Regions from separate parts of the Homo sapiens genome. Here region 2 is linked to region 1. The links come from fine-mapping of genetic effects on gene expression. A gene starts in region 1. The other region holds a variant in brackets. All regions are shown on one strand. Distances are between the middles of the regions. Region 1 holds the start of IL1R1 (interleukin 1 receptor type 1). Region 2 has its middle 53 kb from the start of IL1R1.

Evidence for each region. PIP is the estimated chance that this variant, and not a neighbour inherited with it, causes the effect.
Region 2: its variant is the best candidate, but not a certain one, in a credible set for the expression of IL1R1 in whole blood (INTERVAL, PIP 0.87).

The regions. Positions count from the first base shown.
Region 1 is chr2:102,140,927-102,144,926 of GRCh38, reverse strand. IL1R1 (interleukin 1 receptor type 1) reads right to left here and starts at 2,181. Exons shown (of 12, transcript NM_000877.4): 1 at 1,907-2,181. RefSeq lists enhancers at 964-1,258, 1,024-1,318.
Region 2 is chr2:102,088,008-102,092,007 of GRCh38, reverse strand. It overlaps a transcript of IL1R1 not described here. Among named protein-coding and RNA genes, the nearest start is that of IL1R1, 53 kb to the left of the region's middle. The variant AG/G (reference allele first, on the strand shown) is at 2,173.

The sequences.
Region 1 (4,000 bases):
ACAGAGTGTAGCTCCACCTCCTAGAGCTCCACATCCTAGGAACTGAGGCAAGGGACACCACAAACTTGGAGAATAGCAGCCCTGCGATTCTCTAGGGAACCACAGAGCTACATCTGTGCCCATCATCTCCTCGTCCTCTCCATTGGGGCTGCTGAGTGGTGTCCTCTAGGTAGCCAGTGCATCCACACCCTTGTACAAAGGGGCGGATTTCAAAGACCCCCCTTTTGAAGAGAGACTGCTGACATCCTATGTCTTACCAAGAAGACTCATGTCCATAAGGGGACAGAGGTTTTCACTTGTCGTATTCACCGCTGTCTCCCCACCACTCACCACAGTGCCTGGCACATAGTAGATAGTCAATAAATCTTTAATAAATTAGTGAATCTACTATTAAGCAGTGTTTCAACAATGGTGAGAGGTTGACTCAAAAGATGTCACAGGTTTCAGAACCATAAAAAAAAAACTTGATGTCACATTATGACATACAAGCAGGGCCTATTAGAAATGGGGGTGCTGCTCTGGGCCTGCCAAGGTCATGTGAGAATTCAGATCAAATATCCTTTCCTGAACAGCATGGAGGCCACATGAGAGTGGACGGGTGCAGGAGACGCTTCACACACAGCAGCTTGGCAGCTAGCCAGAGACTGAAAATAAATCAGAGTTCCACACCCCTGCCCCAGCAAACCCCATTCTCAAAGGCTCTACCTTTCTGTCTAGCATAAACGTTAACATCGGATATGAATACAGAATATTAAATGAAATATCAAATGAGATATCACACAATAAATTAGAAGGGATTGAGAAAGAAAACAATGCCAATAGCCGCTTGGTAAACTGGATGGCAAAAAGGACAGTGAACGTCCCCATGCCACCTCTGGCTTTCCTCAGCTCATCAATAGTCATGGAGTTCTGTTTCATACATTCAATGTCCAGAAGCCTGGCACCAAACCGCAGCGACTGAGACATCCATCACATTCCCGTGACGAATGGACCCTTGCTCCATGACCTCAAGAGCCCAAGTTCATGGTGTCCCTTGCCTCAGTTCCTAGAATGTAAAGCTAAATCACAGGAATGTGGCCATCTGAGAAGCTACCCTGCCCCAAAGATAAGGCAGTGGAGAGACAGCCCAGCAGGAGCCAGCATCTGCGTGCCTTCCCAGCGGCCTTCCTTCCTCCCGGCAGTGCAGAGGAGAAAGCCCTGGCAGGCAGGACGAGTGGGAGGGAAGACAGAGGGGGGCTGCATGCAGAGGTCTTACCCTCCTTCAGGACATCATCCTCCAACAAGTTGGTCACCTAAACTTCTGCTTCCCCCGCTGTAAAACAGGGGTGATGACAGCACCCTCCTCACAAGACTGTAGGGAGGGTAAAAGACCAGTTGCTGTCAAGGGCTTATAAACTGTAAAGTGCTGGGCATGACTGTTGTAAATAATGAGTGTCTTCTCAGCGCCTACTTGCTTGTAGCTACATTCCCTAGCACCATCCTTTATCTGGAGGGGCAACAAGTTACCCTCCCCAGTGTGGTTAAGGCCTCAGCCCTTACCTTGTTAAGGAGACTGACGGTCCTGAGCCTAACCTCTAAGAGGGACGCTCCTGAACCTGTAGAACGTAGCCGGATAGAAAACCTGAAAGCCATTCACACGGGAAGTCACACACCTACCTAGAACCCCCCTCCAGAACAACTGGCAAGTTCCTTCAAACGACCTGAACAACGTTAACTCTTGCTCCACACAAGAAACACACACACGCAGACCTCACCGCCATCCCCTTCTTACACAACACACTCTGACAACCAAGTGCAACTTAGGGAGGACGCTCACGGCGTCCTGCAGAGCGGGGGACTCGAAGGTGTCAAGGCTGTGGTCCGTCTCACCCCTACCTAGTCCCCGGATGCTCCAGCTTCCCCGTACCTGGACGGACGGCCGTGGAGGGTGATGGGATCCCAGCCCCGGGCGGAACCCGGCTCAGCTCAGAGGGGCGAGAGCCCTAGGAGCCGAGCGAGGAGTGCTTCGGTGCGCGGGCGCGCGATTGTCACATTCCTGCCGCTCCCTGGGGCGCGCGGGGCAGGCCGGCGCCCCCACCGCCCGGCCCGGCCGCTCTCCGGCTCCTCCCGGCCGGCGCCGCGCGCTCCGAGTCGGCTCCGGCCGCCGGCCACAAGCTGCGCCCGCCCTCGCGGCCGGGAACTGCCGGGCGCGGCTCTGGCTCTAGCCCCGCCGCTGCGGGGGCGGGGAACGGGCGGAGACGGCTCGGCTGGGCCAGTCCGCGGGCTGCGAGCGAGCTGGCCGGGTGTCCCAACTCTCCACCCGGAGGAGCAGGCGCGGCTGGACAGACCCCTGCGGACACCGCCCTGCCCCGGGTAGCCCGCAGGGGTCCCGCCGGTTCCAAAGCATTGGAGAGCTGCCGGGCGCTCTCGAGTCGCGGCCCGGCTCCTCCAGGGCTGCGGCGGCTCCACTAGAGTTAGTTGAGACAACTCACCTAGCCACTACGACCTGGCTCTACTACCCCCATGGAGCCTGGCTGCGACCCGCGAATTGAGTTGGCGACTCCAGGGCATCAGATCCCGAAGCAAACGCTCGCCAGAGCGACCTCTGGAGCTTGGTGCCTGGCCAGGGGCTCTCTCCGACTGGCTTTGTGCACTAATTTCTTTGTACCTCCGTTTCCTCTTCTGTGAAAAAGGGATCATAAGAGCACTCATCTCATGGAGTGGTTGAAAACAGTTTTTTAAAAAAAATGAGCTAATACATATAAAATAGTGCCAGGCCCAGAGCTGATACTACTCACGCGTTATCTGCTGGTTTCATTGTTGCTGTTACGCGCCCGGATGAAAAAAGCAATTTAAGTGTCATACTATAAAATCTTGATACCACACTTGGGGGCAGACAGGGTTTTTAAATTTTTAAACTTAAAACCCACTTATGCCCACCAGCTCACTTTGCCAATGAGAATTCACACCCAGGGGAATGGAAGGATGGCCAAGGTCATGCAGCGAACGAACGCCTGGCAGGATCACACCTTGGGCTCCTTGCAGGGAGAGGAGGGGAGGGCGCAGTGGTCGAGTCTGCAGCTCCCTCGGGCTTTCCCCCTCCACTTCGCTAGTCTTCAGCAAGTGACTGGCCCCTCCAGCTTGTTTGGAGGTCTTCATGGGCCATCCTCCAAGAAGAGTTTTAATAAATGATGATAGCTTCCTTCCTTCTAGTACACACCGCCCCTTCCTGCATCCCTTTCAGACTGGGCAGGCTCTTGTTCTCGTAACCCACCCCTGGATATGCCTCTTCAGAAACTCAAGAATTGAGGTAACCTGAGCCTCAGCTGCCCCCGGACAAATCCAGGCTGGAGGAAAAGATGAAGGAATGAGCAGCAGAAGCTCATCTGCCCTAAAAGCTGTCTTGCAACCTGGCATGATGACAATTTCTCATTCTTAAACAATCTGTTTCCAGAAGCTTTTATGGTTCCTTTTCCTCGAGAAAGCAGGCTTACATCAGAGGCCAGTGACGTAGCATTAAGAGAATTCCTTAACAATCCCAGCTCTCAATATTCCTTTATACAGCAGAAGGTCTCACAGCCTTGACTCCACTCAGAATCACCGGAGGACATGACACTCCTGTGTTCAGATCAGTCACGTCAGAGTCTCTGGGGCTGAGGCCCAAAAGGCAGTGTTTTTAAAGCTCCCAGGTAATTCCAGTGCAGCTGGGGTTGCAAGCAGTTGTTCCTCTAAGCTCCCACAGTGATGCCATTACTGTGAATCCTCCAACTGAAGGCTGCTTCAACCACGTGTCCAAATGGCAGTTCTGAAAGCTACAGCAGGTGGGCCTGGCTCCATGCTGTGGAACCAGCCCAGAAGCACTATGATGGTGAACATAAATTCGTCCTTCCATTTTCATAATGAAGGTTTTTAAGCAGTTTACAAGTAGAAAGTGAAATTGATTTGTGCAACCATGTAGAAATAAAATCCGTAATTTTTGTCTTTTTTAAGTGTTGTCCCCGTTCAGCCACTCCTACCCAGT
Region 2 (4,000 bases), 53 kb after region 1:
TAAGTTATTACATATCAAAAACCTTCTATTCAGCCATTAAAAAGTAATGATTTTATGTCATTTGCAGCAACATGAATGGAACTGGAAGTCATTACATTAAGTGGAACAAGGCAGACACAGAAAGACAAATTTTGCATGTTCTTATTCTGTATAGGAGCTTAAAAAGTTAATCCCATGAAGGTAGAGAGAAGAATAATAGATAGTAGAGGCTGGGAAGGCTGTGTGGGTAAAAGACGGGGATAAAGAGAGCTTGGTCAATGGGTAAAAACATACAGTTAGATAGAAAGCATATGTTCTATTGGAGAGCAAGGTAGGGTGACTATAGTAAGCAACAGTGTATTGTCTATTTCAAAGTAGTTACAAGAGAGAACTTGAAATATTCCCAACGTATAAAAATGGTAAATACTCAAGATGGCAGATACTCCACATACTCTGACTTGATCATTACACATTCTATGAATGCAACAAAATATCACATGTACCCCATAAATATATAAAATAGTATGTATAATTTTCAGAAAGAAGAAAAGGATACATTATCCATGAAGCTGCCTTGTTAATTTCCACTTTCTCAAGACTATAAAATCCACTTCCACTTTATCAAGATTACAAAATCAGCTTTCAAAGGATAATGGCCAATAAAGTGAATGTATTTTAGAAACTACTGTGAACCATAAAGAGGCAATGTTTGTCAAGTACATACACTCATAGGCTATCCAAGATGCTGTTAAAGATTGATAGATTAAAAGAAAGAAAGAAAAAAAACTACTAGAAGAAGCCCTGCCTCAAGCACATAACCTGTTTTCCATCAAAACATTTGCCAGATTTTTCATCTCTATGAGACTGATCACTTGAGAGCTGGGCTGTGAATCTCTGGAGGGTATATCTGGTTCTCCCACAATTTTTTTGGAACTAAGGCAACAGAGACTCACAAGGCTCTCTATGAAAAGCCCAGAAAAGTCTCAATTGAGAAACACAAGTAAACCAAGTTCTAATGTGTTTTACTAAAATGGAAAATTCTGGTTGGACTGAGTTTACCAATACCTCATTGCATCTACTGAACAGAAAAGAAGAAACTCCCTGATCATTAATAACATTAGCCGAAGCCTCTATTGTCCTCTCATACACATTGTTTGGCAAAATTAAAAATTTACCACAGAGACGAGAAAATATGGCTAATAATTAAGAGAAAAAAGCAGAATATGGAAGCAGCTCACATGTAATCAAGAAATTATAGTTAGCAAACTAAGACTGTAAATAACTGTGATTAATACCCTCAAGAAGATGCAGAAAAACATGAACTAAACAGGTAAAAGGATAAAAAATACCAACAATGGATTGAAATCTATAAAAAGGAATCTAATAGACAATCTAGAACTGAAAAATATAATAGCTGAAGTGAAAATTCAGCTGATGGGTTAACAGCTGATTAAACACAGCAGACCACAGGTTTTGCAAATGTGGAGGTAGTTTAACAGAAAATATCAAAACCAATGCATAGAGAGAAAAATAATAAAAAGAGCGTAAGAGATATGCATGATATACTCAAGAAGTCTAACATATGTATAATTAATCTTAGAAGAAGACAGAAAGAGCAAATCAGAAGCAACAGTTGAAGAGATAGTGGCCAAACGTTTTTCAAAACTGGTGAACCACATTTTCATGGGGCTTAGCAAATTCCAAGTTGGTGGGAAAATAATATTTGATCTGATTGACTTATTTGTTATTACATACCCCCAACATAGAACCTTTGTGGGGATTTAGGTTCCTGCACCCAAAACTCCCCATGGTAGGTGGTGGTGGTGATGAGGAGGGGACAAAGGACTAGAAGGCCAAATTACAAAAAAAAAAAAAAAATTGAAAAAAAAAGGATAGGCTGGGCGCAGTGGCTCATGCCTGTAATCCTAGCCCTTTGGGAGGCTGAGGCAGGCGGATCATGAGGTCAGGAGATCGAGACCATCCTGGCTAACATGGTGAAACCCTGTCTCTACTAAAAATACAAAAAAATTAGCCGGGTGTGGTGGCGGGCACCTGTAGTCCCAGCTACTCAGGAGGCTGAGGCAGGAGAATGGCGTGAACCCGGGAGGTGGAGCTTGCAGTGAGCCGAGATCGTACCACTGCACTCCAGCCTGAGCAACAGAGTGAGACTCTGTCTCAAAAAAAAAAAAAAAA[AG/G]ATAAACCAAAGATAACTACACCTTGACCCATCATAATAAAACTCTTGAATACCACAGACAAAATAGCAACAATTTAAAAGCAGTCAGAGAAACAAAGGCATTCAGAGGAAGACTTACAACTGCCTCCTTGATAGAAACAGTGAAAACTAGAAGACAACGAGGTACAAACAGACCTCATTTTATTTCACTTTGCTTTATTGTACCTCACAGATACTGTGGGGGTTTTTGTTTTGTTTTACAAATTGAAGGTTTGTGGCAACCATGCATCTGGCTCTATCAGCTCCATTTTTCCAACAGCATGTGGTAACTTCATATCTCTGTGTCACATTTTGGTAATTCCCACACTATTTCAAACTTTATTATTATTATATGTTATGGTGATCTGCAATCAGCAATATCTGATGTTACTATCGTAATTGTTTTGAGGTGACACAAACCACACTCATAAGACAGAAAAGTTAATAAATGTGTTCTGACTGTCCCACAGACCAGCTACTCCCCCATCTCTCTGTCTCCTTCCTATTCTCTGAGATGCAACAATATTGAAATTAGGTCAATTAATAGCCCTACAAAGACCTCTAAGCATTCAAAGAAGAGTCACAATTCTCTCACTTTAATAAAAACAAGAAATGATGAAGCTTAGGCATGTTGAAAGCCAAGATGGGATGAAAGCTAGGCCTCTTGCACCAGATGGTTAGAAAAGTTGTGAGTGCAAAGTAAAAATACTTGAAGGACATTAAAAGTGCTACTCCAGTGAACACACAAATGATCAGAAAGCAAAACAGCCTTATTGTTGATATGGAGAAAGTTTCAGTAGTGTCAATAATAGATCAAAACAGACCCAACATTCTCTTAATCCAAAGCCTAACACAGAGCAAGGCCCTAACTCTTCAATTTTAGGAAGGCTGAGAGAGGTGAGAAACCTGCAGAAGAAAAGTTGGAAGCTAGCAGAGGTTGGTTCATGAGGTTGAAGGAAAGACGCCATCTCCATAACACAAAAGTGCAAGATGAAGCAGCTAGTGTTAATGTAGAAGCTGCAGCAAGTTACACATATCTAGGTAAGATCATTGATGAAGGTGGCTACACTAAACAACAGATTTGCAATGTAGACAAAACAGCCTTCTGTTGGAAGAAAATGCCATCTAGGACTTTTATAGTGGAGAAAAGAAGTCAACGTCTGGTTTTGAAGCTTCAAGGGACAAGCTGACTTTCTTATTAGGAGCTAATAAAGCTGGTGACTTTAAGTTGACGCCAACGTCCATTTCTCATTTCAAAACTTAGGCTACATCTACTCTACCTATGCGCTATAAACTTAACAACAAAGCCTGAATGACAGCACATCTGTTTACAGCATGGTTTACTGAATATTTTAAGCCCACTGTTGAGAGCTAGTTCTCAGGGGAAAAAAAAAAAGATTCCTGTAAAAATATCACTGTTCATTGGCAAGGGAACTGGTCATCCAAGGGCTCTGATGAAGATGTAAAAAGAGATTAATGTTTTTTCATGCCTGCTAACACAATTTCCATTGGATCAAGAGGTAATTTTGACTTTCAATTCTTATTATTTAAGAAATACATTTTGTAAGGCTATAGGTGCCATAGATAGTGATTTTTCTGATGGAACTGGAAAAGTAAATGGAAAACTTTCTGGAAAGGATTCACCATTCTAGATGTCATTAAGAACATTCATGGTTAATGAGAGGAGGTCAACATATCAACATTAACAGGAGTTTAGAAGTTGACTCCAACCCTCGTGGATGACTTTAAGGGGTTCAAGACTTCAGTAGAGGAAGTAACTGCAGATGTGGTGAAAATAGCAAGAGAACT